Linked DNA regions of Homo sapiens. The protein of the gene in region 2 interacts with the protein of the main gene of each other region in a pairwise test. Each region holds a gene or a part of one and is shown on either strand. Other genes may lie near its edges.

Region 1 (7,247 bases), on a different chromosome or scaffold from region 2:
CCCACCCCTCCCCCATGAAATCCACAGCTAAGTTTTCTTTTCTTCTTCCAAGATACATGTTGAAAGCTGTCCATTTCTCTCCATTCTTAACACCTAATTCCCGGCCACGATCATCTCTTTCCTGGACGTATGCAGCAGCCCCCATTTGGCCTCCTGCTTTATTCCTGCACCCTCCCAGTCCTTCTCCACACGGCGCTCAAAGGTCTTGCAAAACATACAACCTGATCATGTTAGCATACTGCCTAGACTCCTTCACGGCTGCCCACTGAGATTAGACTGCAGCAGAGCCTTCTCATCCACACCACAGCTCACAGGCCCTGCCTGGTGGGGCCCAGGCCTGCCTGCCCACCTCATCTCCTGCCACTGTCCCTATTGCCTGCCATGCTCCAACCACACTGTTCTCCATGGCTTCCATGTGAGCCCTCTTGACTCAGGGCCTTCGTACATGCAGTTTCCTGGTCTGCAACACCCTGCCTCTCACTTGTTACTTGACAATGCATCCTCATCATTCAGGTCTCAGCTGAAATGTCAGTTGCTCAGGGAAAGCTGGTCCACTCTCTTCCCTGACCTAAATCCCTCATTTCTCTCTCTCACAGGACTTGCTTATCATATTTGGTAAGAGTATATTACTTGCAGGCTAATTGGTTTAACAAAGTGTCAGCGTGCCACTGGGTTGAGGACCCAACCCACCTCTCTCTATATTTTTATTCGCCAGGTCCATGATTCTCAACTGGGCTGAGGGGATTGTGGGTGGGGAAGCGGGGTGCGGGATGGAAATTTGTTTCCCAGGGGACATCTGGCAATGTTTGAAGACATTTTTTATTGTCACAACTTGGAGTGGGGGTGCTACTGGCATGTAGTGGATAGAGGCCAGGGATGCTGCTGATATCCTATAATGTACAGGACAGGCCCCCACAACAAAGAATTATCCTGCCCCAAAATGTCAATAGTGGGGAGGTGAGAAACTGTGCCTGCCCTCGGTGATCTCATGGATGCTCATAGTCCTAAAAACCATGTATATGCAGATTATTCCCACATTTCTGTCTCCAGCCCAGGCCTCTACCTGGAACTCCAGACTCACATACCCAACCACCTACCTGACATCTCACCCGGATGTCTAACAGCACAAACAGACTCAACACATCTAAAGCCCAATTCCTGCTTCCCCCCACTCAACCCTTCCCATTGCACAGGCTAAAAAATATACAAGGCATTCTTGACTCCTCTTTCTCTCACACCCTATGTCCAAACCGTCAGCAAATCCTCAACGCTTTCCTCAAGGCAGATCCAGCATGGACCACGCCCCGCTAATCTCCTGCTAACACCTTGGTCTCCACCTTCACACACTCAGGACTGGCTTCCCTGGCTGGGCGCGGTGGCTCACGCCTGTAATCCCAGCACTTTGGGAGGCTCAGGCAGGTGGATCACTTGAGAAGTCAGGAGTTCGAGACCAACCTGGTAAACGTGGAGAAACCCCATCTCTACTAAAAATACAAAAATTAGCCAGGTGTGGTGGTGGGTGCCCGTAACCCCAGCTACTTAGGAGGCTGAGGCAGGAGAATCGCTTGAACCCAGGAGGTGGAGGTTGCAGTGAGCAGAGATCATGCCACTGTACTCCAACCTGAGCGACAGAGTGAGACTCTGTCTCAAAAAAAAAAAAAAAAAAAAAGAACTGGCTTCCCTGCTGCTGCCTTCATACCTCCACAGTCTATTCTCAACCCAGCACCCAGAATGATCTTTTAAACATAGAAATAGAACATATCACACCATAGCACAAAACCAAGGTCATTACCATGGTCTATAAGTCTCCAGTGTCCTGACCCCTCAGTGACATCCCTGACCTAAACTCCTATGATTCTCCCCTCACCTCACTTTGCTCCAGGTATACCCACCTCCTTGTTGTTCTTCAAACACACCAAGTATGCTAATGCCTCAGGGCCTTTGCACTGCCTGTCCCTGCTTCCTGAACATTTCCCCTCCAGAGAGCTGCGTGGCTTTGCTTCCTCACTTCCTATAGATCTCTGAAAAAAGATCTGAATAAAGGCTCACCTTCTCAGTGAGGCTTCCCTGACCACTCTATATAAAATAGCGACCCCTCCTACCTCGAACTCCATAGCCTCCTCTTGTTTTATTTTCATCTGGAGGACTTATCATCTTCTGATATACTATATACTTCTTTCTGTTAATTACCTGTCTCCCCTCTCTAGAATGTAAGCAGGGAGTCAGTTTCATTTAATGTTGGACACTCTATATCCAACACAGTGCTTGGCACACAGCAGAGACAAATCTGTTGAGTGAACAAAAGAATGTTGTCACCAATTCTCAGATGAAAAACCAAGGCTCAGAGGCTTTAAGTAACTCACCCAAATGAAGCCCACAGAGCCACGGTTCTTCCCATGGCCCCAGACTTGTTCCAAGACCTCCTCCCTACCTCTTCCCCCAAAAGAAGGGGAAGGATGTTTAGGAGTGAGGGTATGGTGGTTTGGTCAGGGGAGTGGAGTTTAGTTTTTTATAAGAAGCCCCCAGGGCCACAGGAGACCTTGATGGTGTGGGGAAAGATGTCTGAATGGGCAGAGGCCTCCTGAGTCCACCTTTGTGGCAACCCAGTTCTAAGAACCCGGGATGGGAAAGGGGTCAGTGTGAATGGGGAACCTGCCAGGCCCCCTGGGCACCAGCCTCTAGCTACCTGTGGGCCCTGAGCAACTCCCACCCGCTGGAGGGTAGGGAGCCACACCCCACCCTGCCTGCTGCCCCAGGGTGCCAGCACAGCATCTCCCAGCCCCTGGCTCCAGAGGTCACGCTTGTAGTGACAGAGAGCCCAGCTGGGAGAGAGAGCCAGCCGGCAGGGAGCCTGGCCTGGATAGCCCATTGCAGCCCCGCTCATCCCACTTACTCTGCCATTCGGTGATGGAGATCATGCCGCACTCAGCCTGGGGGGCTTTCCGGGTGGAAGCGGGCAAGTGGAGCGTGGCCCAGAGGACGCAGCTGGTACATGGTCACGGGAAGCTGACCCTTGGTTAAGTTGCGAAATGAGCCTGTGGCAAATCATTAACTCTCCCTCCAGCCCCCGCTCCACCCCCGCACACCACGCAGGTGCTTCTACTCGCCAGCTCCCTCCTCCCGTTTTCCGGTAGGGCAATGCCCCGCCCCTCCACCTGCCGCGCCTGCCCGGGGAAGGCACCGCCCACCTGACCCTTTCCTCGCACCTCGCGGTGTTCTGCGGCTCTCGTCTGCTCCGCGAAACTTAGATTGTATGTGGAAGCATTGGAATCTAGGGGGTGCTCAAGTTTCTTGCTTGGTTTGATAGTGTGGGAAGAGTTGGCATCTGCGCATCCCTTTGGGAATGTACTAAATTCATCTTGAAAGTCAAGCTTTTTGCTCTCTGCTATTGCACATGCTAGGCGCTGGGAGGCGATGAGCGACTGAGCACAAAGCCTGTTGTTGACCTAATGGCAGAGCCAGATCGGGTTAAATCAATGGCAAAAGCGCCATGGGGGAAGTTAGACGTGAAGGTCTTCGACCTCCTTTCCCCAAGCGGCGTCCAAGCTTTGGACTGACTGTGATGTTGAGCTATGGAAGACAAAGCCCTGAATTTGGGGTTGGGGCAGGACTGCACAATTTAGGAGGCCTGGTTCTAGTCTACCCACCAGCTGTGTAGACATGGATTCGTCCTTTGGGCCTGCAAAAAGAGAGGCAGTTAGTTCCTAACATCCTTTTTTCCCATCGCAGAGCAGTGGTTCTGACGTGGCATTGATGCCAGGAGAGCCAACATCCACTTTGCAATGTCTTCTGTGTCCAGAAATGAAGAAATGAATTTCAAAGACTACCTATATACATCATTTAAAAATGCAAATAGGCCTGGCATACAAAATGCATTATGTCTGTAATCCCAGCATTTTGGGAGGCCAAGGCAGGAGGATTGCTTGAGCCCAGGAGTTTGAGACCAGCCTGAGCAACATAGTGAGACCTTGTCTCTACAATAATAAAAATAAAAAATTAGCCGGATGTGGTGGTACCTGCCTGTAGTCCCAGCTACTGGGGAGGCTAAGGTAGGAGGATTGCTTGAGCCCAGAAGGTCGAGGCTGCGATGAGCTGTGATCAAGCCATGCACTCCAGCCTGGGTAGCAGAGCGAGATCCTGTCTCAAAAAAAAACAAACCAAACAACAACAACAAAACCAAGGAAAGCTAACATAATTTTTTAAAAAGAAACAAAAAGATAAATTATAATAAAACATGATGTCTTTCAATATATAAATGTTCAGGCAAGACTTACCAGAAGACATAAATGAAATAGGCAGATTGCTTGCACCCACACATAATATATGTTTGAATTTAAGAGAAATAGAAGATGAGCCATTCTATGCAAAAACAAAAATCACACACATGCAAGAAAATGAAAGAGTAGCAGGAAGTGAACATAGAATAAAAACTGTTAGATAAGGAATAACAGACCAGACGTACTTGCATATGATGAGAGGGAAAGCATCTTAATTGAAATAGGGATAACATAGCAAGGCAAATTAGAGAGCACAAGGTGGAGATAATATAGAAGTATGATGTGCATGCAAAGGAACTCAGTCTTAGGTATGTGTGTATTGTCAAAATAGCTCCCATGGAATGGGGTCGCCATAGAGTACCACAGACACATCAACCTCTGTCTTGAAACATATCAGCGTTGAGGTAAAATTCAGTCTCTGGGATCTTAAAAGGCCTTAGAGATCACATATTTCCAATGGGCAATGGGGGATAGAGGATGGATTGGGAAAAGAAAAGAAGATAAAAGTGGTTTAGAGCAATTGCATGTGGACACCCGGGACAGTGTTGTAAAGACAGGACACAACATTTCCACACATAATTATGACAACATAGCATCCTTGGGCTCCAAAAAAACTAAACATATAAAGGATGGCAATAATATGAAATAAACCCTAAAAACTTTTATTAAGGAAACTCAGTGAGATCTTCTGCATCTCAAGTGTCTCTGATTCCATGTTTGCTTCTCTCACATATCCTCTGTTAAATATTTTCAGTCAATTTCTTCGTTTATTCAGTATCACCTACTGATCAGAACTGTTTTCAATCAAATACATAGTAGCTGAAATCTTATAATCCTTTGTGTAGACAATGCATGGAGTAGATTATTCAATAATTTTAAGACAATGTCTTTATTCCTTTTAAGCTTCTGCTCCATAATAACCATCTCCTAACTTTCTGAGTGTTCATGAAATTTATTTTTAAAAGCTTACAAAACCTTTTGGTATTACTGTCAATTGAAGTATGACCAACTTTTACTGGTAGTGGGTTTAGTTCAGTTGTACATTCGAAAGTAGTACAGGATATGGGACAATTCTTTGTTTTGGAAATCTGTCCTGTGCATTGCAGTCTCGAAATGCCAGCAAGAGTTTTGCACCCTTATGATTGAGACAACCAAATGCCCCTAGGGGCCAGAATCATCCCTGTTGAAATCACTCGTAGGTTAAGAGCTTCATCCTGGCTTCGTGAAGCCTTGGGCATTTTATTTATCCTTTCTGTGCCTCAGCTTCTTGGATAATTATAGTACCTATGACTGACATAGAGGATGAGGATTCATGAGTAAATGCATGTGAAGTGCATAGAACCAGGTACCTGGCACATAGTAAGCACTTAATGAACCACTGTTATTCCTGTTACTGTATAGTTATAATAATTACTATTGTTATTAATGTTATTATTAGTATACTGTTAATATGCTTTATATGAAAGACTTCTACTGTCATCTCAAATTGTGGTGCTAAACCACTCCCGCAGGTGTATAAAATAGCAACTGGGGATGCCCCTTCCTGCCCCCACCCCCAGCCATGGAACCCACCTGTGAGCTCAGGAGAATTAAACGCTCATGATACTGGGCCCTCCGGGCCTGATTCTCTGGGTACTGGAGCTAAGCCCAGAGGCGCTGTCCACAACTCATCCTTCTGGAGAGGGACCTTCATAGGGACAACGCCGGGAAGGCTGGTGCTAGTCCTCGACCCATGGCAGTCTCATGACCCTGCCATGATGAGAAAAGTGTGGGGTAGTGCAGTTACTCCCTGGGCTGGAGGCATAGAAGTGGCAGGGGAGGGACACCTCAGGGATGGCACGGGCCCTGGTGATGTCTTCCAGCAAAGGCTGTAGAGCTAGTAAAGGAGGGGTCCTGGAAAACCTTCTCCCTCTTCCCACATCAGGCCCCTGCAGGTGGCCAGGGAGCCTTTGCAACATCACCACTTCCACTTCCTCACATTTGGAAGTGAATTTGAGTTTTCAAAGTGATTTTCATCCATTTTCTCATTTGTCTTTCTTGAAAGTTCCATAAGATGGTGGTTAATATACCCATTTTCCAGATGAGGGAACTGAGACTCAAGAATTTAATGACTTGTCCAAATCTTCATGCAGCTAGCAAGGAGCATGTTGCTAGGGGCAGGAGTTGAGGATGACATGCCACCTTCTCTCATTGGTCTCAGTAACGAGGTGAGGCTCGGGATGAGGAGGGGGACGTGGCGTGGCCCCAGTTCCCTGGCAGCAGCAGGGTCTGAGGCTTGGCTGCCTGCCTGACCCTGTCGTGCCTGTCTTCAAGAATAAATAAGTGATCATGCAGTTACACAGCTCTGCTCCTTAAAGGACATTCTGCTATTGCATTTTCATTTACATTTCTCAGCTACTACCCCCTTTTTACAAATCCCAACCTGGCTTGATCTGGTAGGGGATGGAGCAGGCACCAGCTGGCATCATCTCTTGAGAGGAGGAGGCAGCCCTTGTCGGTGGATGCAGTGATGCCCGGTGGTACTCTGTGGTCTCACATTCCACCTCCTCCCCAAGCCCTTGCCACTGGCTCTGGCTCAGATGGAGCCTGAAGATAAAGGCTCAGCCCCCCAGAAAGTGACGAGTTCTCCAATATGCATCCCCCTACCCCAGCCTCTGATGCAGGCCCTCCCCCAGAGCCTACATCTGGTCACAACTCTCCCGGGTTCACAAAGGACATCATCCTGGGGATGTGACAAAATCCAAAATAGAGTCGAATCTTAAAAATGACCTCCCCCGTACTAGCCCTTAGAAATGGGAACAGGTGTCCAGAATTCAGCTTCAGCCATGAAAGCCAAGCCGATGCAAGATCAGGAATTAGAGGAAGCTTGCTTTCTCATCTCTCCTTCTCGCTTTTTCTTGAGCCATCCCTCCCTCGGACAACATGCAGAAGCCCCGCTGAGCCTGCCAGTCTCCCGGGCGCACCTCTTCT
Region 2 (7,023 bases):
CTCCGCCTCCCAGGTTCATGCCATTCTCCTGCCTCAGCCTCCTGAGTAGCTGGGACTACAGGCACCCACCACCACGCCCGGCTAATTTTTTTGTATTTTTAGTAGAGACGGGGTTTCACCATGTTAGCCAGGATGGTCTCGATCTCCTGACCCTGTGATCCGCCTGCCTCGGCCTCCCAAAGTGCTGGGATTACAGGCGTGAGCCACCGCGCCTGGCCTGGACAAATATTTCAAAGCAAAGGAATTTACCTGGGATGAAGACAGTTTTTTTTTTTTTTTGAGATAGTGTTTCATTCTTGTTGCCCATGCTGGCGTGCAATGGCACGATCTCAGCTCACTGCAACCTCTGCCTCCAGGTTCAAGTGATTCTCCTACCTTAGCCTTCCGAGTAGCTGGGATTACAGGTGTCCATCACCGCGCCTGGCTCATTTTTGTATTTTTGGTAGAGATGGAGTTTCACCATGTTGGCCAGGCTGGTCTTGAACTCCTGACCACAGGTGATCCTCCTGCCTTGGCCTCCCAAAGTGCTGGGATTATAGGTGTGAGCCACCCAGCCCGGCGAGAGACCTTGACAAAAGGGTCAGTTCACCAAGAAGATATTCAATGTGTATACAACTAACAACAGAGCTTCAAATAAATAAATAGACATAATGTATTCACAGGTCAGAAGACTCACCATGGTAAAGGTCAATTCTCTCCAAACACATTTATAGAGTTAATGCAATATAAATCAAAATCCCAGCAGGATTTTTTTTTTTTTTTTGTGGATACAGATGAGCTGATGCTACAATTTACATGGAAGGGTCAAGGAACCAGACTAGCTAAAACAATTTTGGAAAAGAATGAGGTTGGAAGAATCACACTGCCTGATTTTAAGATTTACTATAAAGCTATTAATAATCAAGACAGTGTGGTACTGATGAAGAAACAGGCACACAAATCAAGAGAATATAATGGAGAATCCAGAAATACAGTCACAAAAAATATGGCTATTTGATTTTTGAAAAAGGTGCAAAAGAATTTCAATGAAGAAAGCAACTCACCATAACCAAAGCTGGGGATACTATGGTGAAAAAAATCCAAGACTAGATACAAATGACCAGCGAAACAGGAATTGGTGGGTGTAGTTGGATACTAACTATGATACATACTGATGCAACACACAATGTATTTATTCAGGACAAAGTTTCTAAACTAACAGGTCACACCAGTAAGGAAGACTTCTGTTCTGGATTAATCTGGTAAAAATTTAATCTTTTCATTTACGGTCATCAAAAAGACTCCAAATGGGAAACAGACCACTTTTATTATTTCATGTTAATTTTGGCCATGTGTCAAAATTAACTTCTAGGAAAAGTAAAAAATCAAACAGTGGCCGGCTGCCGTGGCTCACGCTTGTAATCCCAGCACTTTGGGAGGCCGAGGTGGGTGGATTACGTGAGGTCAGGAGTTCAAGACCAGCCTGGCCAACATGGTGAAACCCCGTCTCTACTAAAAATACAAAAATTAGCTGGGTGTGGTGGCGCATGCCTATAATCCTAGCTACTCGACAGGCTGAAGCAGGAGAATCGCTTGAGCCCAGGAGGCGGAGTTTGTAGTGAGCGGAGATTGCACCATTGCACTCCAGCCTGGATGACAGAGTAAGACCCCGTCTCAAAAAAAAAAAAAAAAAAAAATCAAACAGTAATTAATGCTTCAGTTTAATCCAAGGCTAGGTCTAAAATGCCATTAAACAGAAACATATCAATTCTTTGATGAAAAATATGCAGAAAGAGCAAAGGACCAATAGATGATTTCAAAATATTTAACAATAATATGATTATTTTTATTATGATTCAAAAAACCTAACAAATTAACTTTCTTTGAAGAGACTGGCAATTTAGCTTCACCACAGCTAGGCTATATGCGACACTGCTATTACAACACACAGCTTTTCAAGTCCTTGCTTTAAACACCAATTAGAAAACCCAGAAAGGGAGAAGGAAAGGGTGATAAAAAATAAAAATTCTGAAAGTTTGTAGTCAGAGGCAACACAAGAAATAGAATGAAAAAGAATTCTTATAGGCTATGTATCTTAATGTATACAGCAGGATATACACACCCAAGTTTGTACTTAAGTTACAAAGCACCTATGTCCCAACCATGCAACCGAAGAGCTAAACAATCCCAAGGATTCATATCGCTACCTGTGTGTTCTTCCCCTGTTCCGTATGTCTTACCTTCTTCAATCCCTACCCCCATGAGATAACTGCTCTCTTTTTTGTACCATTGGTAAGAAAGAAATATTGGGAACATTTTCAATGGGGAAATTAGTACATACTCACCTTGAGTAGAAAAACTAACGTATCTGTTTCCTATTCATACAGCATGGACGGCAAGCAGCATCCCTACTGCTATGAAATTTTATAATGGTGTCATCACTATTAAAAGTATGAGTTATATTACTCTCGTAAAGCCTTCACACAATTGATTTTTATGTGACCTCACCCTGAAATATTCTATTACCCCAATCAAAATAAGCCTATTTTTTTCAACTACTGAGAATAAAAGTGTTTAAACATACCACAGCATACCACTGCTACTAGAAAATGGCTCAAGAGGATTTACTTATCATCAACTTACCTCATGTAAATTCAATTCTTTTACTTTCTCTTTTAATATAACCTGTAAGACAAAAAAGTATGTTCTTATGCCCATTTAAATCTGTAACTTTAAATATTTCTCATTATATTCTCAAATATTTTTCTTTTGTATATATGGCTCATTTCCCTCATATTCAATATTGAAGGGAATTTCTTTTACAGTTTGAGACAGATCATTTTAGCAACATTTTTTTAACTTGAGCAATGATGCAATATTCTCCTAAAAAAGGAATTTTGGCCGAGCATAGTGGCTCACACCTGTAATCCCAGCACTTTGGGATGCCAAGGCGGGTGGGTCGCCTGAGGTCAGGAGTTTGAGACCAGCCTGGTCAACATAGTGAAACCCTGTCTCTACTAAAAATACAAAAATTAGCTGGATGTGGTGGCGCCTGCCTATAATCCCAGCTACTCGGCAGGCTGAGGCAGGAGATTCACTTGAACCCAGGAGGCGGAAGTTGCAGTGAGCCGAGATCGTGCCATTGCACTCTAGCCTGGGCAACAAGAGCGAAACTCCGTCTCAAAAAAAAAAAAAAAAAGTAAGTCAATCTTAATTTTGAAAGTTTTGACTCCGTGGTGACCAGACAGTAGTTAAAATGAATGCCAAGTGATAAGAAGGAAGTTTACTATTTAAGAAAAAACTCTGAGACTAAATATAGCTTATTAGAGTTATATTTCATCTTAAAGTGAAGAAAATAGGCAAGTAAAATTTGAGGGAAAATCTCTAAATTTTGGTGTCTTACATTCCTGAACTAAAAATGGATTTGAGGGTAAATCCTGTTTTCAGAAATCACACCAGAAGCTACTATAAGGCCTCACAGGGATATACTAAATTTCCTATCCAGTATATTTTAAAGATCAAATTTACTGTATGTCTTGTGACTTGTCTAGTTTTATCAGTCAATTTCACTTAAATGACTGCAAAGGCCAATTTTACTTTCTAGTTAGCCTACATACAAATATCTTGTAAGCTGTCAAGATTATAATACGTGGCCAGGCACGGTAGCTCATGCCTGCAATCCCAGCACTTTGGGAGGCCGAGGTGGGCGGACTGCTTGATCCCAGGAGTTTAAGACCAGCCTAGGCAACATGGCAAAACCCTGTCTCTACAAAAAATACAAAAATTAGCCAGGTGTGGTGGTGCACGCCTGTAATCCCTGCTACTTGGGAGGCTCACCTGAGCCCAGGAGGCAGAGGTTGCAGTGAGCTGAGATTGCACCACTGCACTCCAGCCTGCGTGACAGAAGCGAGACCCTGTCTCAAAACAAAACAAAACAAAACAAAACAGATTATGATAGGAGTCTGGGCAACATGGGGAGACCCCATCTCTACAAAAAGTACAAAAATTAGCCGGGGGTGGTGGTGTGCGCCTGTAGCCCCAGCTATGCATGCCACCACACTCAGCTAAGGTGGGAGGATCACCTGAGCCCAGGGAGGTCAAGGCTGCAGTGAGCTGTGATCATGCCACTGCACTCCAGTCTGGGTGACAGAGACCCCGTCAAAAAAAAAAAAAAAAAAAGATTATGATAGGACTGAGACAAAAAGATTCATTCATTTAGAAAACTAAAATACTCAACTCTGATTTTGGATCCCACATGAGACCTGTAAGAGTGTGGGGTTACCTAAGGACATCAGTATGTCCATCTAGGGAATGTGCCAGTGAGCTCAGATTTCAAACATACATGGACGAAAGATGAACAGAAAGATAAGCAGTCCTGGCTGGGCGCGGTGGCTCACACCTGTAATCCTGGCACTTTGGGAGGCCGAGGTGGGTGGATCACGAGGTCAAGAGATCAAGACCATCCTGGCCAACATGGTGAAATCCTGTCTCTACTAAAAATACAAAAATTAGCTGGGCGTTGTGGCAGATAGATGGCTGTCGTCCCAGCTACTTGGGAGGCTGAGGCAGGAGATCACTTGAACCCGGGAGGCGGAGGTTGCATTGAGCTGAGATCTTGCCATTGCACTCCAGCCTGGCGACAGAGCGAGACTCCGTCTCAAAAACAAACAAAAACAAGATACGCAGTTCTGAAGTGTTACAGTTCCATAACATCAGCGTCAGCAAGGTTAAAGACTCAAATAAGCTGAAGCTCCCCTGTACCCAAGAAGAAAGCTAAGGGTAACAAAAATTAAGAATTTCATGCTTAGAGCCAAAGGAAAATCTAGGCCCCCTGTTTGGAAGAAAAAAATAATTTTACTTGGCCTTTGAGAAAAGATAAGTGTATTAACTTAAAGACAAAATCAGTGAAGGACTAGGTATTGACAGCTATGATCCAAGTTTGCAGACTTCTAGTGGATAATATGAGCTAACATTTAAAGTACAAAAGGGAGTAGATGAGATCACTGTAACACAGCTGGTCGCTCACCTCCGAGGAACTGCTATGTCTTCTAATAAAGAAGGAAGGAAAAATTTCACTTAATGGTATCTCAGAACTCCATTAAGTCGACAGTAACTTTAAGAATTACAAGCTATAGCATTTCTCTTTAGCAATCTGTTGGCTCAAGTTTCCTGTTAAATTATATCATCTGAACTTTCTACAGCTTCAAGTAATGCTTACAAAAGAAGAGAAAAGCTGGGCACAGTGGCTCACGCCTGTAATCCCAGCACTTTGGGAGGCCGAGGCGGGCGGATCACCTGAGGTCCAGAGTTCGAGACCAGCCTGACCAACATGGAGAAACCCCGTCTCTACTAAAAATACAAAATTAGCCAGGCGTGGTGGCGCATGCCTGTAATCCCAGCTACTTGGGAGGCTGAGGCAGGAGAATAGCTTGAACCTGGAAGGCGGAGGTTGCTGTGAGCCGAGATCACGCCATTGCACTCCAGCCTGGGCAACAAGAGCGAAACTCCGTCTCAAAAAAAAAAAAAAGAAGAGAAGAATACTTAAGAAAATGAAGTTGATATATTATACTGCAAATTGGCAGTGAGATGCTAAAATGAACACAAGTAAATTCAGTCCCAGTTTAACGTATGAGTGGAAATCAGAGTTCTCAGTTTTTTGGGGGGAAAAAAAAAATCAAAGCCAATCTGAATTAAATTTCTCACCTGTTTGTAGGCATAAAATTCTTTGTGTGCTTGATGTCTTAGCCTAAAAGACAGAAATTAGTAATGCAATATTGAGATTTCCAACATAGTAACTTGAAGAAAAATAAAAAGTTGCTGATTTTGGTATTAATTTATAACATTTATGGCTCAAATGATATAAATTAGAATCTTTACCCTGAAATACACCCAAATGATGTATCTCTTAACATGCTATGTGAAAGTGCCCAGGGAACCATGAAATGTTACCCAAACGTAAGATGACTCAATTCTTTTTATACCGACAGTCTACTTATTTCAATAATATTTATATTTTTTCTTAATTAGAAAAAATTTAAGTATAACATACATCCAATGAAGTATAAAAACCTTAAGTATACAGCTCAAAATCTTAAAAAATGTACATACCAGGATAACTGTTGCTCATATCAAGACATGGTACATTTCCAGCACACCTGAGCCCTCTAAAATGATCCTTCCTAATCAATATCCATGCCCCAGAGGTAGCACTATCCTGATTTCTAACACTGTAGATTAATTATGCCTGTTTTTGAACTTCATGTAAATGGATCGTTTGGTATATACTCTTTTGTGTTTGGTTTCTTTCAGTCTACAATGCCTTGTGAGATTCTTCCATATTGTTGTAGTAATTGTCTTTCTGACTGACATACAGTATTCCATTGTATGAATATAATACCATTTATTTATCCATTTTACTGCTGATGAATATTTAATTACTTCCTGTTTGAGGCTATTATTAAAGCTGATACACAAATTCTACATGTCTTTTAGTGGACATATATACTCATTTCTGTTAAGTATATACCCGGGAGTAGAACTGCTGGTTCAAAGTACTCACACCGAGGCTGGGCACCGTGGCTCACGCCTGTAATCCTAGCACTTTGGGAGGCCGCGGCAGGCGGATGGCCTGAGGTCAAGAGTTTGAGACCAGCCTGGTCAACAGGGAGAAACCCCGAATCTACTAAAAATACAAAAATTAGCCAGGCATAGTGGCACATGCCTGTAATCCCAGCTACTTGGGAGGCTGAGGCAGGAGAATCACTTGAACCCAGGAGGCGGAGGTTGCAGTGAGCCGAGATCATGCCACTGCACTCCAGCCTGGGTGACATAGTGAGACTTTGTCTTGAAAAAAATAAAAGTACTCACCCTGGCCGGACACAGTGGCTCATGCCTGTAATCCCAGCACTTTGGGAGGCTGAGGCAGGAGGATCGCTTGAGCCCAGGAGTTCGAGACCAGCCTGGGCAATAAGGCAAAACCTCATCTGTACAAAAAATACAATTAGCTGGGCATGGTGGCGTGTGGCCTGTGGTCCCAGCTACTCG
Region 3 (7,515 bases), on a different chromosome or scaffold from region 2:
AGTGGGGAGAGAACAAAAGAGACCCGCCTGACAAAAGATTTCAAGTATCAAGTCAGCTGGGTAGGTAAATCAGGTCCCTGGCTTCCAACGGGGCTCGTTTCCCTCCACCTTCCTGTTGCCTCCAGGACCTCTGGCCTCCTCTCCTCCAGGACCCTCCAGGGCCTATTGCACGCAGCCTCAGGCATCTGGGCTCCAGGTATCCCACTGCTGCCTCATGCAGAGACCTTGGCTTCTCCTTAAGTGTTGTTGCCAGCCTTATCTTTCACTCCACCTCTAGAACCTCATTGTGACCATCTATGAAATGCAAGTCTTGGACGAGAATCTCGATGTCTGCAACCCCTTCAGGTCTCAAAGCACACAATGCTACAACTCCACTCCAAAATAAGTAGAAAACATCTTTTCCCCTCATACAACTTTGCCCATGGTGAGTTGCCTCTGACAAGAGAGAGAACCATCTGCCAGTTGCAGACACAGCAGTGGGTGAAGAGGTGAGGGCTTGGATTATTAAACACGGCCCTCCAGAGTAAATGGGCATGCACTTTACTGAACTGATGCCCTCCTGGTGAAGACAGTGGGTCCTTCAAGGAAGTGATGCCCCCGCCACCGTGACACGGTCTCGTCACAGAATCCTACCTCTCCTGCATGTTAGCAGTGACATGTCTAGGAGAAAAGGGCCAAGTTCATGGCTACAGTGAGCTATAATGATTGTGCTACTGCACTCCAGCCTGGGGGAGTAAGACTGGGCTTGTAAAAAAAAGGAAAAGGACAAATACGAGCATCCTGCGAGTCAACAACTTTAGCTAGAATGATCAAGAGATAGAAAGGAACAGAATCAGCCCATTTTGCCATTAACTCTTTAGGAAAAGCAGTTGGCCCCAGAGGGTACACTCAGAGGAGAGAGTGCTTGCTGCTTCCATCCGTGGGTCTGGCTGCAAGGCTCCCATTGTTCTCTGTTCCGAGGTCAACAAGGGGCAGTGAAATCGGACAGGCAGAGGTGAGCGCTGCCTGAGCCACCGCTCCGTCCCGGATTTGCAGGCAGCTGGAGCCCGCGGGACCGGCCAACCCCGCCCACGCCGAGCCCACAGTGGCCCCGTCCTGCCGCGCGGACACTCAGGGCGGCCCAAGGAATCGCCTACATGGGATCCACCCCGCGGGTAACTATCTTTTTATAGAATAAACAAAACAGAAAAACAAAAATCTCGTAACTCCGGCGCTGGCCGCCTTGCACTGCCAATGACTCAGCAGCCTGTGTAAGTTACATATTGGAGAGAGGACCGAGCCCCCCGGAGCCCCCTCCACCTCCCAGCGCCCAGATCCCAGCCGGACAGTGAAACGCACAATGTCAGGAGTAACGCGGCTTCACAACCGGAAAATGGGTGATTTTATGGCAAAGAGTTTATAAAAACATCCCTTGGACTTTATTTTATGACAAAAGATAGGAAAACACCTCTTAATCTATTTCAAAATAGTAATTAGCCAATGTTTAAATTTCAAGAGGAAAAATCCGAATTACAGGATTTTAAAGAATATGGTTTTAGGCCAGGCGCGCCTGGTGGCTCAGGCCTATAATCCCAGCACTTTGGGAGGCCGAGGCGGGAGGATCGCTTGAGCCCAGTTCAGACCAGCCTGGGCAACACAGTGAGACCCCGTCTCTTAAAAAAAAAAAAAGGTAAAAAAAAAAAGCTTGTAGTGTTCATATGTATATATATATATTATTCAATATATTACGGTAACTAAGTCCTGCCTAGTAAAATCTTTTTTTTTGTAATAAAATTAGCAACTCACTAAATTTATGTGAATATATGGTTTTAAAAACTCTCAATGAAGATTAAAAGTTCACTGTCAGAGGTTTCAGCAGTCCTTTCCCAAGCTTATTTACATGCTAATTTTGCTTAGTAAACTCTGGCTTCAAAGAACACAAAGGTCAGCTGCCACCAGGTCCCTCCTCCGAGGCTTTGGCCCTAGGGACCCTGGGAAGGCGGCTTCAGTGCCCGCTTCCCTGAGCAAAGGCTCGTCTGGACTCTGACGCGGACCCACCGGGTGGGGTGGGTCTCCACGCCACCCGGCTGTGCGTGGGGCAAGTCCTGCACCCCGGGCCTGCGTTTCCCGCTGCGTGAACGGATGGTCTTGCGAATCTAGCCAAGGGCACACAGCGAGCCTCTACTCGGGCATTAGGCAGGCTGTAACGACTGAGTGCTGCACGGGCAGCGTCCTTTTGCTTGTGTTTTCTTAACCCGTAAGTCATTTAAAGCTTTGTTTTGGAACGACCCTCTAGTGAAATTGGAACATGCCCATTTAATGCCATATTTTAAAAACGCTGTAACCCCCTCCCATCTCCGCGTTCACCCTTGAGGAAATCCTAACAGTCACCATGGATATAAACATTAATAACAAAATTAAAGCTCATAACAGGCCACTTGCCACGCCTTGGTGTTTGGTCATTAAAACCAATACTGGTCTGAACTACAGACCGCGGAGGGCAACGTGGACTTTGAGGCTGTTCGGTCCAACTGCGAGACGCAGATTCACCTCCAGGTGGAATTCTAGCTCGCGCGGAGCTGGAGAATCGGGGCTTTCCCGTGCGGTCCGACCCGGGTCCAAGCCAACCCCCGCCCGAGTGGCGAGGCCGCGAACCCCGGGCAGTACGCGGGGTCCCCACGCCCCGGGCTCCGCATGCCCGCAGGAGGGGTGGGTACGGAAGGGGAGGATGGCGCAGCCTCGCCCGGCCCGCGATGCCCCCTAGGCCTCCCCGGCAACCTCCCCTTGGCGCCCTCTTGGCCTTCCCCAGGCTTCCCCCCCGCGCCCCCTCGGCTCCCGCGCCGCCTCCTCCGCCTCACCCTGCAGGCTCTCCTCCTGCATCCCGGGCGCTCCGTTCTGCGACATGGCGCCAGAGGGCAACTGCGGCGATCGGAGTCCGCGCCGGGCTGCGGGATGTGCTTCAGCTGCGGGCGGTGGGAAAGCGGAGGTCGGAGCGCCGCGGCCCAGCTGCGCTCCCGGACTGAGCGGAGCCCCGCAGCCCGGCCGGAGGAACTCACAGGGCAGGGCGGGGCCGGGCGGATCTGCGGCCGCGTCGCCCATTGGCCGCGACTTGGGGCCTGCGCGTGCGCAGGGGCGTGGGGTGCGTGTGGCACGTGCGGCGCGTGCGCGGGGCGGGTCCTGCGGTGGGCGAGGGGCAGAGGCCTGCGGTGCGCGGGACGCGGGCGGGGAGAGGGGCGGGGCGAGGGGCGCGCAGGCGCGAGGGCGGCAGCGACCGCCTGAGGTGAGCCGGCCCGGGCTGGACGCCGCGGGCCGCGTGACGAGTGGGCTGCGCGGTCGCCGCCGCGGCGGGCGGTGGGCCGGGTTCTCCTTTGAAGGGGCGGTGGGACCGGCGGACTCTCTGGGCACTGGCTACCACGGAGACGCCGCTACGCTTCGGGGCGGGGCCCGTCTTTCCATCCTGCTAGTGGGGAAACTGAGGCGCGGGGCTGGCGGCGTCCGTGCGGGGGGCGTGAGGACGTGCAGGGAAGCGGCCGCTGCGGCTCCGAGACGGCCCGTGGGGTCGGGACCTGCGCCCGGGGCGGGAGCTGCGAGCGGTGGGCCGGAGCTGAGCGTCTCGGGACGGGACCGCGTCCCCGGGTCTTTGCCCGCCCCGCCGGGGCGCCCCTGCGTGAACAGCGGGGCCCGTTGTGTCCGGGGCGTCCGCCCGCAGGAAGAAGCGGAGGCTCGAGCAGAGTCGAAAGAGTCTGCCCGAGGGAGGCGCGGACCCCAGGGGCCCGGGAGAGGCGCGCCGTCCGCCTCTGCGGCAAGGGGCCTCCGGGGTGCAAACGCGGTGTGGGGCGGGCGTCCCCGGGGTGGGACGCCCCGTCCACGGGGCGGAGTGGCGCTTGGTCGGGCCGGGTGGGTGCCCGGCTTCCGTGGGAGCCAGCCTGGCGTGGGGGCCTCGCAGCCTCGGGACTGGGAGGCACTTTTCAGAGGAAAGTCGCTTTCTCATTTCCCGCTTTTGATCAAAAGTCTTTCTTCTTGAAAGCATTGTTGATCCAAATCCAAGTGTCAAGGTGCGCCCCAGAAACGCTGCTTCCCAGACAGTCGTGTCTGGTCTTGCGGGAAAGGAGGAGGCGTCCCGCCAAGGAACCAGGCGCTCAGAAGCTGAACCGGGGTCACAGAGCCGCGAAGCCAGACCTCAGTCGCTGCGTGCATTTCATCCCTGCTCTTGCCTGTTGAATCGTCTCTAGTCTTTGGAGTGCCATGATTTTAGTTTTCTCAGGAGTAACAAACATCCAGAGGCCAGTGTGGGGCGCATGTCTTTCATCTCAGCACTTTGGGAGGCCGAGGCAGGAGGATCGCTGGAGCCCAGGAGTTGGAGACCAGTCTGGGCAATATGGCGAAACGCTTTCTCTCCCCTAAAAAAATACAAAAAACTTAGCTGGGTATGGTGGCACCTGCTGTGGGAGGATTCCTTGAGCCCAGGAGGTAGGGGCTACAGTGAGCCATGATCAGGCCACTACCCTCCAGCCTGGGCAACAGTGTGAGACCCTGTCTCAAAAAAAAAAAAAAAAAAACCGCCAGAGATACATAGCATAGCATTAATAATTTCGATAGTAGAACTGTAGTGCTGGCCAGGCAGTGGTTCTTGTGTGTAATCCCAGCATTTGGGGAGCCCAAGGCAGGAGGGTCACTTGAGCCTGATAGTTCAAGACCAACCTGGCAACACAGAAAGACTCCATCTCTATTAAAACAAAAATGTTACCAAGTACGGTGCACATAAGGATTACAATGAAAAAGAGAATGTGTATGCCAGAATGAAAAACGGAACCTATTCGAGGGAGTCAACTAAAAGTATTACGAAGAAAATCAAATGGAGAATTGTTCAGAATAGTGTAGCCTAGTGGCTTGTACTTTTTCCCATATGAGTTTCTACTTCGTGGAAAGGGTTTATGCACATCAAGAGGTATTTGCCACCATACATAGACTTGCTTGCTCAGCTAATAATCGAAAGCAATGCAGTCGTCCAGTGCAGCCTTAGCCAGTGAGTCAGTAGCTTTTTGTTGGGCTGTGATGGAGGCAGCAGTTTCATCAGCAATATTTCCTGATAGGCCAGATATGCTCGCAGTCATCCCAAGTAAAAGCAAACAAATACTGACTCTAGGTCCACTGGAATACTAAAGAAGGCACTACATAAATGAGTCACAGTGTCTCACTTCCAGCTGCCGAAAGAGGATGGGGCTTTGGTACTACCAGATGTCTGGGGATCACAGTGTTGATGACGGTTCTCAAATCTTGTACAGAATACCAGCTCTTCCCATTCGGCTTCCTTACAAGAAGGATTGGAGTATTACATGCTGGCGCAAGGAATAATTAGACCCCTTTTAATATAGTCTTTTGTTACGGATCTTATTCCTTCATTTGCTTCAGGCCTTAGAGGATATTGTCTGATATTGGGTAAAGGATTAATCAGGTTTACTTCCACTTTAATGAAAGTGGCTGAATATATTTTACTAATGTCGGTGGAAGACTCTGACCATAAGTGGTCTGACAAAGCTTGCCCTAAGCCATCCGTGTCATTAGTGCCAGTTGAAAAAAAAGTTGTTTGATCTGTATTTTTATAATTTCAGTAATTTCTCATTCTGTAGTTTTTCCATTTGCTCCTTCCATTCTAAACCTAAATCCATTTCTTCCTTTTGGGAGAAGGAAAGCATGCATTGTGACGTTCCAACACAAAATGTCTGCCTAAGAGATGTCTGAGAGGTGGGGGAATGAAGAAAAGAATGAGGGCCCTGGGATTCTAAGGGCTTGGACTTGTATCCAGTGATAGGCTGATGAGATAACCCTACCGTTTGTACAGTTCCATTACTCCAAGGAAGGAGACAACTTAAAGTGGACGAAAAGAGTGGCACCAGTGTCTTTGAGGGCATGTGTCTGTTCTTCATTTATGGCAATGTCCATTTCTCCTAAGGCATTAGTAGAAATAGGAACACCTCCCTTCGATCATCAGAGCAATCCTGTTCATCATGTGGGATCCTGGTTTTTCACTGGTCCTGCTGTTAAATTTTCTACAATCTTTTTTGAAATGGCCAGGCTTTTTACAGTAGAAGCAAACAGCCCTTTTGTCATTAGAAGGAGGCCCTGTCTTTTCTTAAAAGGCCTCATTTGGTTAGTCAGTTCTTGTAGTTGCAAATTCATAATCTTTGAGACCTTAGTTTTTTTCTTCCTTCTGAATTGTCTTAGGAAGTTGATCTGCATAGCTTACTAATTTGTGGGTTTGTATATTCACCCGGTTAAGCTGGTATCTTTTTAACTTAGGTAACCAAACCCTCACTTAAGCCACTGAGGAAAGTAGAATTTATGAGGAGTCATTCTAATGATCTTGGAGGCTAACAGGCATTCCAGAATATTATTTAAAGGTTTTTACAAACCCTTCAAAACATCTAAGCAGAGATTTGTCTGACCTTTGAGTACATTGTTGAGTTCTCCTCCAATCTACATTTTTAGGAAAGAACTGGGGCAAGGCATCAGGAAGAGCCTTGGCTAAAGTCCTTATTCAAAAAAGGGGGGCTTTGGAATTGACCGGGAAGGTGGAGCACCAAAGCCCTACCCATCAGCTCTCACACTTTGGCTTGTTGGGTGAATCTCACTGTCCTCTGGGAATTATGTACTTGTTTTCCCCGCACCCAAGGCCATCTCCCACCTGCAGCCTTTTTTTTTTTTTTTTAGAGACGGAGTCTCACTCTGTCACCCAGGCTGGAGTGCGGTGGTGTGATCTCGGCTCACTACAGCCTCAGCCTCCCAAGTAGCTGGGATTACAGGTGCCCACCACCACACCTGGCTAATTTTTGTATTTTTAGTAGACACAGGGTTTTGCCTTGTTGGCCAGGCTGGTCTCTTAACTCCTGACCTCAAGTGATCCACCCACATCAACCTCCCAAAGTGTTGGGATTGCAGGCATGAGCCACTGTGCCCGGCCTTGGAGCCTCTCTTCAATGCTCTCCAGCAAGCACTGAATAATCCACCTGCTTCGTTTTAGGGAATCTTTGTTTCAGTGAAATAAACCTCTCTGTCCTTAAATTTTGGATTCACTCACCCATTGTCATCGCCTCTGCTGTCTCTGATGCAGATATTTAAGGAAAACGGTTATTTTCCGGCAGCAACAGTGGACAATGAAGCTGTCATGTGTGGCAGGACAGCAGGGAGCAGGCAGTTGGTGAGAACTCAGCTTCTACAGGCAGGAATGGAGTGGGAGAGGCCCTCAGTGGTCCAGGATTTGGGAGGATTCTGTGCCTAGTCCCTGTAAAAGCTGCCAAGTGTGTTCAGAATTATTGGACTAGGTTTGCAGACAGGGAGTCCCCAGAGTTTTGGGGGTTGAGATTTCTTCTTGGTACAGCTCTGGGTAGATAAAGCAGATGTAGGAATCCCAAAAGGAGCTAATTTGGAGAATATCTGTTTGGAAACAGTGGAGAGGTGGGTGCAGCCAGAAGCAGAAGTTACTTTCTGCAGGGTTAACCAACGAAGGCTCGTTCACCAGAAAATGTGCCCTGCTGA

What was found.
Region 1: the proteins of RNF24 (region 2) and GOLT1A interact in binary tests that used the Homo sapiens proteins (3 or more experiments, as listed by UniProt).
Region 3: the proteins of RNF24 (region 2) and BNIP3 interact in binary tests that used the Homo sapiens proteins (3 or more experiments, as listed by UniProt).

What each region holds. Positions count from the first base shown.
Region 1 is NC_000001.11:204,210,989-204,218,235, forward strand, and holds the start of GOLT1A (vesicle transport protein GOT1A), read right to left. Parts: upstream 3,001-7,247; 5' UTR 2,919-3,000; coding exon 2,894-2,918; intron 1-2,893. UniProt on the Homo sapiens protein: May be involved in fusion of ER-derived transport vesicles with the Golgi complex.
Region 2 is NC_000020.11:3,942,555-3,949,577, forward strand, and holds part of RNF24 (RING finger protein 24), read right to left. Parts: intron 5,726-7,023; coding exon 5,683-5,725; intron 2,665-5,682; coding exon 2,623-2,664; intron 1-2,622. UniProt on the Homo sapiens protein: May play a role in TRPCs intracellular trafficking.
Region 3 is NC_000010.11:131,978,924-131,986,438, forward strand, and holds the start of BNIP3 (BCL2/adenovirus E1B 19 kDa protein-interacting protein 3), read right to left. Parts: upstream 3,001-7,515; 5' UTR 2,884-3,000; coding exon 2,838-2,883; intron 1-2,837. UniProt on the Homo sapiens protein: Apoptosis-inducing protein that can overcome BCL2 suppression. May play a role in repartitioning calcium between the two major intracellular calcium stores in association with BCL2.